2 separate regions of the Homo sapiens genome follow, and region 1 is linked to region 2. A link means that fine-mapping ties the variant in region 2 to the expression of a gene that starts in the linked region. Tissue or cell type: whole blood. Region 2 holds a variant in brackets; the other region holds the start of a gene. All regions are shown on one strand. Distances are from middle to middle.

Region 1 (8,000 bases), 100 kb before region 2:
AGGCTCAGACCAAGACCTCTCTGATGGGGCACCCCAGAAGTGGGCACCCTTAATGTGAGCTTTTCATCCGTATTAAGCTGAAAGCACTTATGTACTTCACCACTAAGTGGGAAGCCAGGCTAGAGATGGAGAGATGGGAATGTAAATGTTCTGAACAGCAATTCCTATCCTGGAACCCTGGGCAATGCCCCTCGTCCCTACTCTCTTGCCTCAGTTTACCCATGAGGTGTTTTATTAGCCAGAAAAGCCATTGCAGCTTTTGTTGTAATCTATCTGTGGAGACTGAACACACACACACAAACAACTGAAAAAATCATGCTTACAAAATGAGGATTGTGCAGATTGCCACTGAAGCTGGCTAACCAACAGCAAATGTGAAACAGACCCAGATAATTTCCCCAGGCTTATTAAATTGATTCCTGCTTCCCCATGAGTGGTGGTGGAGATGCTGGCTGCAGGGAAGGGACAGAGGGAAAGAGTGGTAAAAACTTCGCTTTTTGGAGGACATTTGGTACGTTGCACAAACAGCCCGCGCTGCCAAGTGAGTCAGAACTTCCGAACAGCATAATTTTAGTGCCCTTCTTGTGGTTCCCTCTCTGGGCTGCTTCTGAAAGGAAGGTCTCAGGGCGGGGTTTCCTGTGTTCAATTCCAGAGATGACAAAGGGGCTCTTCCCCCAATCCTTTGCCAGATTTTTTTTTCCAGATGGGTTTTCATGTCCACCCCCTTATGTAGCTGCAGGTAATGCTGAAGACGAAGGTATTGTGGACTTCCTAGTTGTAAACTGCCCCATCCCTTCGCATTGCTTACTCAACTTTTGTTTTCCTTCCATGTGGACTACTTTGGAGAGAAAAAGATTGGCATCAAATAAAAAATAGGGTTCTGTTTTTGATGTGATGTTTATGTCAGGCTTAAGAAAAGTAATGGATGGCCGGGCATGGTGGCTCACACCTGTAATTCCAGCACTTTGGGAGGCCAAGCAGGCAGATATCTTGAGGTCAGGAGTTCGAGACCAGCCTGGCCAACATGGTGAAATGCTGTCGCTACTAAAAATACAAAAAATTAGCTGGGTGTGGTGGTGTGTGCCTGTAGACCCAGCTATTCAAGTGGCCGAGGCACAAGAGTTGCTTGAATCTGAGAGGAGGTTGCAGTGAGTCAAGATTGCACCACTGCACTCCAACCTGGGTGACAGAGCGAGACTCTAAGAAAAGCAATGGAATGGGAGAGTATTCTGAAAAGCAGCAAGCCCTGTAAAGCCCAAGATAATAACAATCACATTGATAATAACAAAACTATCTGCACAGTATTTTGTACTTTATAAAATATGTTTATCACATGTGTTTTCACCTATGAAAAATTATTGCTATCCCCATCTAACAGATGAGAAAAACCAATGTTGTAAGAGGTCACATTCAGTGTAAGATTAGACTGTATGTGCACACTGTATGTGTAACAGAATCTTACAGTGTAAGATTCACTCAGCTAAATAAGTAGCAAAGCTGGGCCTGGAAAGTGAATATCTCCACTGCTCTGAACTGGTGCTCTGCACTGCACCGGCAGCAGGAGGGACAGTTCATCTCTGTGCACCATGGTCCCCTGACACAGAATTATTACACCCTGACCTCCTTGGAGGTAGTAGTCTATGCCTCATTCTTCTTCATATTCCCAGAGACTAGCACATAGTAGATACTCAGGAATGTTTGACGAAAGACTGAATAGCTGTATGGCAGAAACTGTAGCAATCATACCATTCCCAGAACCATAACATAACAGCTCGCCTGAGTTGGGTGCTCAAATACCAGGCACAAAACCATACAAGATAAGCTCCTATTATTAGATCTATTCAACAGAAAAGGAAACCAAGTATGAGTAATCAGCTGAAAGTTGCAAATTGGGCACTTTGGCACTAGAGCCTGAGCTCCTAACTGTACCCAACCATCTCTTCCTGCAGGACATTGAGTTACAGTGGCCAGCTCCACCCTTGGAGCAGCCTGGGGGAGCCATCTCTCTCCTTGTGCAAGTCACCTGCCCTCTTTGTGTCTTGGTTTCCCTTGTCAGGCAAAACTCATTAAACTTTTCCTAACTACCTGGAGGATGTTTGCAGAGATTTAATGAGGAGACACATTTGAAAGCATTCTGAAAAGCAAAAAGCGCGATCCAGATGCAGGCATTATAATCATTGTTACTCGCTGCCTGCACCTGCAGTTTGACTGTGGCAACCTCAAGGCCTTCGGCAGCACTTCTAATTGAGCCACAGTGATAATAACACATATAATAGCATACTTGGAACCAGTCAGTCGCAGGGAGATGGGAGGGGCCCTGTGTATATCTTCAGCAACGCTGTGAATAATTACAGCTTAATAAATGGGATCTAACTAAGAGGTGTGGGTCTACCTCAGAGTGAATCCTGGGTTTTGGCTAATTCTTCTACCTCCCTCTCAATTTGGAAAAGACATACACACACACACACACACACACACACACACACACACACCGTTAACTATCTTGTCCTGCTTTACAATTTAATCTCTTAGGATACTGACTTTTACACGGATCTGTTCTACAAACATCTGCCATCCCTGCTAAGAAACAAAAAAGGAAAACAGCATCCCGGAAGCCCTGGATTTGGGCCAGTTACTAACCCCGCATCTGTAAAATCGCTAGCCGCACCTAAACTGTGATGACTGGAGTTCACATAAAACCTAGTTTTACAACTTGTATCCTTCATTAGTAGCGCTCATCTGATCCAGAGGCGGTGAAGCCAATCATGCAACCATGTAATTACTCGGAAAAAGATAAGGGTTGGGGCCCAGGACTGTTCAAAGCTGGGCTGGATGCACAGGAAGGCCAGTGACTGCTGACCTGGGAGGAGAGCGCCAGGGTGCGAAGGCTTCCAGCCATCAAGCAGTAGGAGTTTGGCAGAAGGCTGTGGAGCAAACGCCGGGCCAAGGCAACTTCATGTGCACAGGCACAGAGGCAGATACAGTTTAGACATTCTGGGACAAGGTTAAAGGGTTGGCGTGGCTGGAGCAGGGGTTGGGAGAGTGGGAGGATGTTTCTGCTGGTGGGGAGGGAGAGGTGAGGCGCATTCTGAGGCCTTGGGTTTGTTGGGGGTTCACATTATGCCTGGGGATTCACATCCCTTGTGACTCCTGGACTGTGGGCCCGGACTGTGGGGGTGGGAGAGGACGGGCAGGGTGCCACTACCCCCCACCCCGCCCTTTCTCCCCGCGCGAGGCTGGCTGATGAGTGTCATTTTCTTCTTGGATTTCGCGCCTACGGGCGGTGTGCCCCTTCCAAGGCCCCCACCTCCGCTCTGTGAGGGCAAGATCTGCCGGTGTCCTAATCCCTTTTCCATGTCTGGGCGCACAGATCCAACTTTCCCGGAGAGGCAGCTCCGCGCCATCCCCTAGGATGAGAAGAGGGTGGGTGGCTGTGTGTGTGTCGGGGAGACAGACAGGGGCCAGGGCTCCGGGCTGCTTTCCAGGCAAGCGTGGACAGGACCCCCCCCTTAACCCCCGCCCCGGGTCCGCGACAGGGAGCGGTGAGGCTTTTCTTCGGCCCTGGTCCCCGGGGCCACGCAGGATGTCCGCCGGGCTGGGGTTGCGCACCCGGGGCCTCCGCTGAGCGCGTGCGGAGAGGGGCGCGGCCTCTCCCGCGGGGCCACCGGGCGGGTCCCGGCGGGGGCGGGGGTACTCGCGGTGTCCGGGCCCGCCCCAGCCCTGCCCCGCCCCGGAGCCGCCCGGGACGCAGGGAGGAGGGAAGGAGGCTCGGCCCCAGCTACCCGCGGCGCCGCGCTCCTCCACGCTCCGGGAGGGTAAGTGGCACGGGGCCGGGAGGCCAGGCCTGGGGCCGGGGGCCGGGGGCCGGGGGCCGGGCGGGTGGGGTCCTCAGCCCCTGGCCCAGCTCTGACACAGCCCCGGGAATCGGGGGCGCCGAAAGTCTGGGGGACCTGGGGAGGCGCGCCCGGCGCGGGGGCGGGGGCCCCGGCGTGACAGCTGCGGGCGGGCGGGTATTTTTAGTTTAAATCCAACCGTTCTGTGCTGGCTGCGAAATTCCCGAGCCTTTCCTTTCAACCCCGGGGAGCTTCGGCCGGCCCACAAGAAAAAGCCCTAAAGCCCCGGGCAGCGCGCCCCAGCGGGCCGGGTGCCTCCTCGGGGCTTCCCTCTGCCTCCCCTAGGGGCGGGCTGACCTGTCACCAAGGCTTGCGCGCGGCGGGGGCCCAATCCGCTCCTGGCGACCGCGAGCGCGCTCAGTAGTGCCTGGGAGAGCAGAGCAGGCGGCGAAGAGGGGAAGTCCAACCCCGAATGCTCAGTTTCGTTCAGACGCCTTTTGGCTATGCAAACTTGGCAAGCAGCTCAACCTCTCTGAGCCTCATTCCCACATTTCTAAAGGGGAGGGCAGTGAGGCCAGAGATGGCTTGCAGGGCCTGAGAGAGCCTCAGATGGATGTTGACTTCCCCTGGGGTCTTGGGATCTTGACCCCAAACAGCAGACCCATTGATGTGGCCCATTGGTCAACCCGGGAGCAGTGTCCTACACCGCCCAGCTGACCTCTGCTTCAAAACTGGAAGCCAGGGGCCTCCAGCCTGGGCGGGGTGATAATGAATATTTTCAGTTAACCACTTTGGCCCTGAAGCTCCAACCCTGGGCTTTCCTGGGACTCTCCCAGGTTCCTGGTCACCCCTTTCAACTCTGAAGGGTCACCCTTATCCCTGCACTGGGTGGGGGGGCTTTCTACAGCCAAGGGCTGCTAGTGGGATAGCTTGATGTGTCTTGGGGGCATGCCCCATCCCACATGAATGAGGGCATGAGGAGAATGGACCGTCCTCCCAGAAAGGAGAGCATGTCATAAAATCACTGCCATTCTGAGCTTGGCAGGACAGCGTCCTTCATCCACCAAGAGAAGCAGAAACAGGCCCAGAGAGGGGGAGTGATTTGCCCAGAGCCACACTGCCTGGCTCTCTTGAAGGGCCTGGGCTTGCCGCCTGCACTTCCAGGGCAGCCAACAGCCCATAGGAGTCAGGAGCTGGGAGGTGGGAGGGGCATATCAGTGCCAACGAGCTGTTTTGCTCAGTTTCCTGTCACTGTGCCCCAGCGGGATGCTCCAGCACATGTGGGTCTGCACATTCCTCAGGCCGGACGGTGCTCGGCAGGCTGACAGCCACAGCTGTGCCAAGCCTGCTGGCCCCAGGCGTTGTTTTCAACCAGAGAGGCCCCTCTGGGGGTGGCTGAGCGGGAAGTGGGCTGGGATGTCTTATTTCTGGAACTCGTGTCTTGCTGGGGGTCCTGAGAAGAAGGCCTGAGGATGTGTTGGTGGCACAGAGGGAAGTGGTGAGAATCCAGGCTCAGGTTTCTGCCTCCAGGTACAGTCTGGCACCTGGCTCCCTGCAGGTACACTTCAGAGTGAGTTGGAGTCCTTTCTGTCTGTCTCCATGGGAACAAGGCTCCTGCTCGGGTGCTTTGCATGCTCTCCAGCAGCCATGGACCTGGCCATGCCTGGGCAGCCCCTTTGCCTTGTGATGCAGCCTGGAGCGGGCTGCCGGGGGGCCCTGGCTTGGCGGCCCCGGGAGGCAAGACTGGGCAGGCCCAGCTCAACGTCAAAAGCACCCTGGAGCCTTTGGGAACCCACTGGGCAGCTAGGCTTCCCGCATTGTCCAGCTGTTAGGAATGGGGCAGTCAAGTTGGATTGCCTGAGTCCAGTCCTGCCTTAGCCCGTTCCTGGCTGTGTAGCCTTGGGAAAGTTGCTTCACCTTTCAGAGCTTCAGCGTCCTTCCCCGTGGAAAGGGGCTAACCATAGCACGGCAGGTGTTGCCTCGCAGGGCCTCATGAGCACTAAACGAGCTTTGCCCTGATCAGCATTTTGTATGGTGTCAGACACAGCACATGTGAGAAGGTGTCACAGTTTGAGGCGAAGGGGCCTCGTCGGGATACCTGGGTTCCCCTCTGCTCTGCCTCTGCCCCTCTTCTCCCTGCCTTGATTTCCCCTTGTCTGTCAATGGTGGGTAGTCCTGGCTCACCCCCCTCATGGTCCTCCCAGCACTGAAAGCTGGCCCTTGGCCCCAGGGAGGGCAGGAGGCTCTTGACCCCAAACAGCTGACCCATTGATGTGGCCCATTGGTCAACCCAGGAGCAGTGTCCTACACCGCCTAGCTGACCTCTGCTTCAAAACTGGAAGCCAGGGGACTCCAGCCTGGGCGGGGTGATAATGAATATTTTCAGTTAACCACTTTGGCCCTGAAGCTCCAACCCTGGGCTGCCCTGGGACTCTTTCCCAGGTTCCTGGTCACCCCTTTCAACTCTGAAGGGTTCTAGAGAAGCCTACAGAGGGACTCAAATGTGTTCGTGGGGTCTTCCAAAGCTCTTCCTGCCTCTCACCTCCTAGGATCTGGTAGTAGGCAAGGCTGTCATTGCTTGCCCATTTACAGATGAGAAGGCTGATATCCAGCGGCTGGATGTGGTACAGCCAGGATTAGAACTAAGGGCTTTTGACCTGATGCTCTTCCTGGCACCACATGGCCTATCTTAGACAATCCAAGGACAAAGTTGTACGTTCATCACTGGGAAAACAGTACTGACCGGACAGGATGCTTGTCTTCATTAAGTCATCAGTACTTGCTGGAAAAGAATATGGATTCTGAATATATATATATATATATATATATATATATATATAATCTAAGCAGCCTGACTGGACCACAAAGATAGGAACCCAGGAGCAGCAGTGTTTCCTGACCCTCCCATCCTGAAAGGAACCTTTGCTTTAGGACTTAGGGATGATGTTCTGGGGCTGAGCAGCTAGGAAGCTAGGAAGTGGACGGGGGACAAGTTTGGGAAGCTGATGCCCTAATTTTGACCTCTTGAAATACTTCCCTTTTGGGGTTGCTGCGAAGATAATTGAGGTAACTGGGGATGATGCTTTAGCAGAATGCCCGGCATGGTGCGGGCACACCATAAATAGGACTGATGGTTTTTATTATTACTAACCCTCTACTATCATTGTAACACCAGAGTGCAGCCTGGATCTCTCGCCTGGGTTTCTAGGCTGCAGACGTGGTATAGAGAATCCTAGCATCTCCATGGAGAACTGCTAAGGCAATTATAAAAGCTCAAAACACAACCAAACTAAGCAATGAGTTGTTTAGTGACACATAGCTGAGAAGTAAAATGACGACAAAAAGCAAGAAGGTGATTAGCTTAAATAAAAGCCAAGCATTACCACGCGTGCTGAGGAAAGGTGAGAGAGGATCAGGAGAGTCGGGGGGGCAGTTACAAAGGAGATCACTTTGTAGTTACTGGCTAATTACATGTATGTTTTATACATGCCTTTATACGTAGATTCTATTTCACAAAGTTAAGCTGGTTTAAAAAAGAAAAAGGCAAGGGAATGATAATGCAAAATCAAGGTGATTATCTTTGGGGAGAAGTGGGTAATTGATCAGGGAGATGTCTGTTTCACTCTCAGTGGGATCCATTATGTTCTGTTTCTTCAGTCCAGTGGTAGGCTTGTGAGTGTTATTTTTTATTTATTTTATGTATGTATTTATTTATTTTTTGAGACAGAGTCTTGCTCTGTCACCCAGGCTGGAGTGCAGTGGCCTGATCTCGGATCACTGCAAGCTCCACCTGCCGGGTTTACGCCATTCTCCTGCCTCAGCCTCCCGAGTAGCTGGGACTACAGGCGCCCACCACCACGTCCGGCTAATTTTTTGTATTTTTTTTTTTAGTAGAGACGGGGTTTCATCGTGTTAGCCAGGATGGTCTTGATCTCCTGACCTCGTGATCTGCCCACCTCAGCCTCCCAAAGTGCTAGGATTACAGGCATGAGCCACCGTGCCCAGCCTATTTATTTATTTTTTTGAGACAGAGTCTCACTCTGTTGCCCAGGCTGGAGTGCAGTGGCACAATCTCAGCTCACAGCAACCTCCACCTCCCAGGTTCAAGCCATTGTTCTGCCTCAGCCTCCTGAGTAGCTGGGATTACAGGCATGTGCCACCATGCCT
Region 2 (8,240 bases):
TTTGGGAGAACCTTAATTACAGGTTGTTAGTTGCAGTGGAAACCCAGGCTGGGTGGCCCTCCAGCTCATTGTCTTGCCCCTTTTCTCTCTCCCTGGGTGGGTCTCATGGGTCAGAGATTTGGCCCCACCCAACCCAGCAGCTATGGGAAGAACCACCTTCTCTGTGAACTCACACTCATTCAGCCGCTTAAACAATGTGTCACCCACCCCCACCCTCCACTCCCGAAGTCACTGCTGAAATACATGCAGCCAAGAGTACTTATTCATGGTTATAATCAGCCTGTTTTATAAAATCAGTGTCTAAAGACTTTGGTGAGTGAACACATTTGAGACTGGAGGCACAGGGTTAAGCGTTATCATCTGGAGGGGATACTTGGAGCAGGGGAATACATGAGTTGACTCAGAGAGGAGAGGTAGAGAGACAGAACTGCCCAGGTTAGAACCTCCCAGGAACATTTACATTTAACAGTGCTTCTTCATCACCATCATCACCCTCACCATCACTACCACCACCACCATCACTATCATCATCATCACCATCACCATCACCTCCATCACCATCATCACCATCACCATCATCATCTCTATCACTCACACTTACCATCACCATCACAGTCACCATGATCATCACCATTATCACCATTTCCATGATCATTATCACCATCATCACCACCTTACTCTCACCACCCCACCCCCACCCCACCACCATTAGCGTCATGATCATTATCGCATCACCACCATCATCAAGCATCACTGCCATCATTGCCATCACCTCCATCGCCATGGTCACTATCACTATCATCATCACGGGACTGTGGCTTTTGGTGCCCTGGAGGGTGAACCTTGGTTCTTTAGGGAGCCAGCAGATATATTCTATAATAATAGTACTAGTGCTATGATTACTAATATTAATAGTGATGAATGTCACTAACAGTTACTAATAGTGCTAGCACTATTATTATAAATAAGTATTAATAGTACTAATAGTAAGAACTGGTACATTTATCAATCAAGGTATATATATACCTTTGCTTTGAGCCCTCACCACAGCCCAGCAAATAGGGGTAGGTGTTTGATCCCCATTTTGCAGAGCAGATAACAGAGGATCCAATATTGATTTGCCCAAGGTCACATAGCTGTTGAGTAACAGAGTCTGGGTGGGGACCCAGTCTGCTAGGATCCTAAAAGCTGGGCTCGTCCTGCACTCTGCAGCATCTTGACCATGAGGGCCTCACTCTTCTGAGTGACCAGCTCTTGCCCCTGCACTCCTTGGCAGTCAGACATCCATGAAGCCACAACCTGGCCAGTCCCTCCAGAACTTAGGAAATGTTTTCTTGGCCACTTTCAGGGACATTGTAGCAGAGAAGTCCATTAGGCATTTGGACTTGTGAGACTAACCTTCATGTGATACTGATGGCAATAGTGATGGTGATGAAATTGATGATGAAATAAAAGGAGGAGGAGGAAGAGAGGGAGAAGAGGGAAGGAAAGAGGGAGGAAAAGAAGAGAGGGGCCAGGCGCGGTGGCTCACACCTATAATCCCAGCACTTTGGGAGGCCAAGGAGGGTGGATCACGAGGTCAGGATTCAAGACCAGCATGGCCAACATGGTGAAACCCCATCTCTACTAAAAATACAAAACAATTAGCTGGGCATGGTGGCAGGTGCCTGTAATCCCAGCTACCCGGGAGGCTGAGGGAGATAATTGATTGAACCTGGGAGGTGGAGGGTGCAGTGAGCTGAGATCACACCACTGAACTCCAGCCTGGGCGACAGAGCGAGACTCCATCTCAAAGGAAAAAAAAGAAAGAAAGAAAAGGAAGAGGGGGAGGAAAAAGAGGAAAGGGAAGAAAGACAAGAGGAGGAAGAAAGTGACGATGATAAATTTGATGCTGGTGATGATGGTGATGACGAAGATTTAGATGGTGAAATATTAAGGATGCATACTAATCATGACAGCAGCTGGTACATACTTACTATGTGCCAGGCTCTGCCTCATTGGATCCTCATGACAATTCTGTCATGTAGGTGCCATTATTGCCCCATCTGAAGATGAGAAACTAGAGATTCAGAGAAGTCAAGTGACCTTAGGATTCACAGCCAGCACTCTGCTACACCAGGCAAAGATATATGTCACAATGGCAGAGCCTGCAACTGTGTTTTCTATTCTTCCTTTCATGCCTTGAATGCTTTGGGAAAACTGCAGAAACCCTGTTTCTGTTAAAACTTACATTAGCCCTGTTTCACAGATGAGAACCTGGAGATGTGTACTGTCATACAGTCAGTTCAGTGCTACCACCGCTCCTGGCATCCTCCTCGCCCCCTGAACCTGCCCCCCACCACCAGAGCCCCCCAGCCCACTCACCTGTGCTGTGTTGGTTCCGCAGACTCGGCGGTGGCGAGGACTGGGCTCCCTCTTCCGGAGGGCGTGCTGTGTGGCGCTCCCACTGCAGCTGCTTCTGCTGCTGTTCCTCCTCCTGCTGTTCCTGCTCCCAATCAGGGAAGAGGACCGCAGCTGCACCCTGGCCAACAACTTCGCCCGCTCCTTCACGCTCATGCTGCGCTACAATGGCCCACCACCCACCTAACCCACTGGGGCACACAGGTGACTTTCTCCTCCAACCTCCATCAGTCCCAGGGCCCCTCCTGAGGATGCTCGCCAGGGAAACTGGAAACAGGGGCAGGGCAAAGACTGCAGAGCTGCATCCATATCAGTGCTGTGTCAGCGTTCCCAGAAGACACTTACTTTTTATACAGTGTTGTCTTAGTCTATTTATACTAAATGTGTACTACATGTGACTAGGGAATAATGTCTAGAATTTTTATATGATCTGTATGTAAATGCTCAGTATGTATAATTTCATATACGAGTTCTATTTGGAGTTGGGAAAATTCCTAGCAATGGCTCCCTCCAATGGGATTTTGTGGTATTGTTGACTTGGTCTGCAGTCAACCCTAGAAAGCAAGAACAATAACATGTCACTTTCATGGCAACCTCTTCTCCAAAGCGAATCCCAGAATTCAGATGTAATGAAAGGCCTCTGAGCTGCAACGTGGAAGAGCGCCATAGACCCTCACTTGGTGCCCAGCGACTCTTGCTTTATGCGTAATGAGAACAAGTATGCTTGTCTAGTTTTAACAACCACAAAGAGTAGCTGCCACGTGTCAGAAGTAGAAATGGCAATGACCAGAGGCAGGTTCAATGATAGCAGTGACAAGTGACAGAGTGATATCGAGGGAGAAAAAGAAGAGCTGCAGAGAGCAGATCCCCGAACTAAGAAAGCACAGCTGTGTGGAGGCATTGCATGCCGGAGCCCTAACCCCAGCTCTCAGCGGCTTCTGATCACACAGACCTATGAGGACTGTCCCTGGTGATGACACCGAGCCCCCATGAAACGGTGAGATCCTGCTCTGTGTGTTTCATTCAGGGAGAAAGGGAAGAAGACAAGCTTGATTTTTAAGATTTCCATGCAGAATGGTGAGGCACACTCGGTGGGCAGCACCCACTGGCAGTGCCCAGGAAAGATGTGTTTCCTCTGTTGCTCCTGGACTGAGTTTTCATCGTCGAGAGCTCGAGCTGCAGGTGAGAAGGGAAGCATCTGCCACGCCAGGGGCCAGGGATCGAGGGTCCAGGACAGAGGTGAGAGAATCTGCTTTGGAGTTCAGCCTGTCTCAAGGGCTCTCCTTCC[G/C]CTTCCCAGAAAAGACTCTGGAGACAGCAGGTCTATGGGGCCAAGAAGGTCTCATGTGCATCCCCATATGGGACTAGGGCCCAGGCCACCCAAAACCAGGCCCTCTCCAGCCAGGTGTAGGCGAGCTGGGCTCCATGCACCACCTGGGCTGGGGCCGCGGTGACTCCATGTGAGTTCCCGAGGCCAGAAACTCATCCCTTCCTTGCCAGGGAACTCTGGGATGGTTCCTAAGTGCTCTACAACTGGATCATGTTTTTCCTAAATCAACACTAAATTTTCCCCTTTAAAAAAGTACTTAATGCCCACTCTCTACAAATGGATTTTGTCTGTTCAACTACAAATACGAGGGGATTTCCTCGGACCTTCTGTCCGGCTTTGGAATCATAAGGTATTATAGACCCAGAAAGGCCCTTTAAGTAGAGGGGAAACTGAGGACCTAAGAGGGCCTGATACCCAGCACCATTGCTGTCTCACACACACTGACCCTTTGCCTTTCACTGTGAGCTCTGCCCTTGGGGACCCGGGTCCTAGGCAACTAGGACATTTCACCGGCAGGAAACCCGTGCTGCCAAGGAGAGCCCTTGGGGCTGACTCAGAAAGCGTACTTTTTTTTTTCTTTTAACTCGTCTGTATTTGTTACAACTTTAAGCAGAATGTGACTTGGGCACTATATTTCCATCCACAAGCCTGGCTCTGAGTTATTATTATTATTGTTATTATAATTATTTTGAGATGGAGTTTCGCTCTTTTTGCCCAGGCTGGAGTGCAGTGGTGCGATCTCGGCTCACTGCAACCTCCGCCTCCCAGATTCAAGCGATTCTCCTGCTTCAGCCTCCCAAATAGCTGGGATTACAGGCATCTGCCACCATGCCCAGCTAATTTTTGTATTTTTAGTAGAGTTAGGGTTTTACCATGTTGGCCAGGCTGGTCTCGAACTCCTGACCTCAGGTGATCCGCCCACCTCAGCGTCCCAAAGCACTGGGATTACAGGCATGAGCCACCATGCCTGGCCATTTTTTTTTTTTTTTGAATAGCTTTATGATAAGCTGTAGGCTTATAATTATGCTCCTCCAAACAACACTTTTCTTTGGAAAACAAGCCCTGTAGACTCTCCATCCTTCCATCAAGTTCCTTCCCTCAAGCTGCTTCAGTTTAACTTATTTCTACAAGACTAGTACATGCAGAATTGGCAACTACAGGGGATGAAAAGTTCAAAAAGTAGATCCTACAACCCTGTGACTTGGTTTCCAAATATCTAGAGAAATTTGTGATTTCATGGAAGAAGAGAAAGCACACTTTTCTCCAGATATCTGGAAACCAAGCCATAGGGCCGTTCTCTGCAGGCGACCACCTTACTGGAAAATCAGGAGCTGAGTGAGCCCAGGCAGCCAAGCCCAGATGTCCAGTCCTGGAAGTCAGAGCAGTGGCAGGGTGGGTGGGTGGGGGGGCCTTGCCAGGTGTCCACTTTCCTATGTCACAGGTGAGAAAGCTGAGGCCCAGAATGGGGAAGAAACTGATCCATGGCCACACAGTGAGAGGCAGCAAGGCCAGAGCCCAACTGGCCACCATGGCCCTCAGGTGGTACCCTGCTCATTGTGGTATGATCCGCTCATGTCAGCAACTACATGAAAAAAACAGCCACTGGGCATGTATGCAGCCTGTCACATATACCACATGTTGGGGAAGGAGAAGCTGGAACATGCGGGCGGGGGTGGGAATATCTACCTATATTTTTTAAATTTTGATAATGATGCCATCAAGTCTGTTTGTTTGCATAACTGTTTTTTAAAAAAGAATTGATATTTTCAGTATTTTCATATAAATATACTTGTAATATAACGTAACAGCCCAGTTACTGGTGCTTCCAAGCACAAGTGCAATCTCCTTTGCTTAAAGGAGAGCCAGGCAATTATTCTTATGACTTTAGTTTCCAGCCTCTTTAACAGCCATGCAGAGCTTTAAGGTGCTACTTGAGAAAGGTGGCGCTGTGGCGTGTGTGTGTGTGTGTGTGTGTGTGTGTGTGTGTGTGTGTGTGTGTCAGAGAGAGAGAGAGGAGGGAAGGAGAGGAGGGAGAAAGGACCACCAGTGGGTCGGTTGATGAATTAGTTATCCCTGCTTACCTGTCCCTCCCACCCCTTTCTTTCTTAGCCCGTTCTCTGCATGTGGAAAGGCACATGCAGCACCCAGAGGGTGTTTAAAAAGAAAAGCTGGGAGCGGGAGGGATGGGCAGGTACTGACAGCAGACGAGGCGAGGAGACCCTGGGAGGTGCCCAGTGGTGGCGGGACAGAGGGAACACCGACAAGGGAGACAAAGAATGTGCTCGTTTGGTGCTCGTGGGTGCTTGAGCCCCTTGGGCGGCACTTTGCAGCCTTGCTTTATGTAATTCCCACATCGACACCTGCCCCCAGGGTTTGATACTGTTTTACCCCCATGTTTGAGATGGAACCCTGAGGCTTAAAGATATAAAGACCCTTGCTCATGCTGAAGTGGGTCCAAACCCACAACATGGGGCAATGAGGACCCCAAAGCCCAGGCTGGAGGGGGGCTTCAGGCTGGTTCTACCAGGTTGCAGTCTCTGTAGCCTCTGGGAATGGAGTTCCCTGGGCAAGCAGGCAGAACTCTCTGCCCATCAGCTCGCCTGGGACATGGCCAGAGCGGAGCATCCAAATGTTTCCCTGAGGGACTGCCCTCAGCTCTGAGATGAGTCACCACCAGCAGCACATTCCCTTGGGCCATCTATCATTATCTTCACATTGCTCACCTGGAAGATGAGCCCCTCTAATGTCTCATGATGAGGTCCTCGGTCATGAATGACAGAACTCCACACCCCCAATGCCCAGCACAGGATAAGAGCTTCAGCTGTGGTTTGTTGAATTACATTAAAAACCCAAAGGCAAATGTGTTTCCTGACACCCGACTCCCTTCCAGAGGAAATGGGTCAAGGATGACCTGACCCAATTCCATCTCTCAGGCCCCGTTTGCTTCAGGCAGCTGGCTGGAGTTCCCTGCAGGGACCGGGGGTCCAAAGATGCTTGTCTCCGGGCATCTTCAGGGGAAGGAAGCTGGGGACCCTCTGCACCCTGGGGGCCAAGGAGAATGACAGGCAGAGGGCAGGAAAAGGCCTGAAGGCGGGTGGTTTGTGCTGGATGTTCCCTAATGGATTTTACAGCTGGCAAACTGGGACCGGTGGCATCATCCTGCCCTGCCTTGCAGGGGATGGGAGGCTGGGGCTGCCCACAGTTAGGGAGTAAAGAGGGGATCTTATCTCTTCCATTAGACTGGAGCCAGGCCTGACTGGGAAGCTGGGAGGCTTTGCAGAAGCTTTGAGGAACTGCACTTTATGGTGGTCTGGCTGGAGAGGGCGGACGGGGAAGTGGGCCAGAGGGAGTCAAAGGCCAGAGGTGATGTCAGGCTTGATTTACTGAACTGTGTGCTTAAAAGTGGTTAAGATGCTAAATTTTATGTTATGTTTATTTTACCACAATTTGAGGGTGAGAGGAGAGAGTGAGAGCAAAAGAGACAGAGAGAAGAGAGAGAAAAGGAGGAAGGGAGGGAGGGAGGGAGGGATAGAGAGAGAGAAAAAGAGAATGGGAATGGCAGGCTGTGCCTTCATGGTTCCCAACTTTCCTCTGAGGACAAGCGCTAGTGGCAAAGCTTTCACTGACCAAAGGCAAGTGAAACAATACGAGGGAACAACTTGAGTTTTTCTTTCCATAGGATTTATTTTGCCCAAACGCTGGCTCTTCATTCTGGGATTATGTCCCTCCTACTTCAAGGGTGCTCAATGGCCTTTAGGAAATGAGGGATAGGTAAAGGTGGCTCTGTCTTCTTTGATGGTTTCTATTGTGTTTTGGGAGCCCTCATTGGACAAAATAAAAAGTTGCCAACTCTATGTTGGTTTTGCTCCCCATACAGTATTCTTCCTGGAAAAACATGCTGTCTGAAAGTTTGGGAACCCAGGAGATGGTTGGGAGAAGAGAGCAGCTTGAGGATTGCTTAGTGCAGGAGTCCCCGAGGGAGAGAAGGAAAGAGAAATGGGAAGAGGGACATCGTGGAAAGTTGTGGCAACTGGGTTCAGGGGAGGCCAGGAGCCTGCCAGCTGTGGCCTCTAAAAAAATAAAACCCAGGTGCTCACTGGCCCTGCCTTCCCACTGGCCATTCGGATGCTGTCCGGGGTCTGCGGCTTTCTCTCCCCTGGTTGGTGGGCAGAAGTGCCCTGTGCCTCTTTGCATCTTAATCCAATGCAACAAGCATTCTCCAGCCTGTGCCAGGCTTTGTGCTGGGAGATTCGGGGTGAACAAAGCCCAGTCCCTGCCCTCAGGGAGCTTGCAGACGAAGAAAAGGGTTTGTGCCATTGAAGATGCCCAACGGGATTGCAGTCATTGCCCTTGACTTTGCCCATCTGCCTTTCCAGAGGGGGCAGGCCCACTGTCACAGAAACTGGAAGAGCCACACAGGGGAGACAGTGGGAGAGCTCGGAACAGGGCATGAGAGTGTCTTGCTGCCTCTTGGAGGCCACCATTGTGACTATGAACCATACCGGGCAGAGGA

The links. PIP is the estimated chance that this variant, and not a neighbour inherited with it, causes the effect.
Region 1: SYNE3 starts here. The variant in region 2 is fine-mapped to the expression of SYNE3 in whole blood (TOPMed, PIP above 0.99).

Annotation. Positions count from the first base shown.
Region 1 is chr14:95,512,411-95,520,410 of GRCh38, reverse strand. SYNE3 (spectrin repeat containing nuclear envelope family member 3) reads left to right here and starts at 3,761. Exons shown (of 18, transcript NM_152592.6): 1 at 3,761-3,815. SYNE3-AS1 (SYNE3 antisense RNA 1) reads right to left here and starts at 4,291. Exons shown (of 2, transcript NR_188030.1): 1 at 4,191-4,291; 2 at 2,500-3,407. RefSeq lists an enhancer at 1,932-2,081 and silencers at 3,506-4,315, 4,065-4,359.
Region 2 is chr14:95,412,173-95,420,412 of GRCh38, reverse strand. SYNE3 (spectrin repeat containing nuclear envelope family member 3) reads left to right here. Exons shown (of 18, transcript NM_152592.6): 18 at 2,387-8,240. The coding sequence ends at 2,587. Among named protein-coding and RNA genes, the nearest start is that of LINC02292, 87 kb to the right of the region's middle. The variant G/C (reference allele first, on the strand shown) is at 3,689.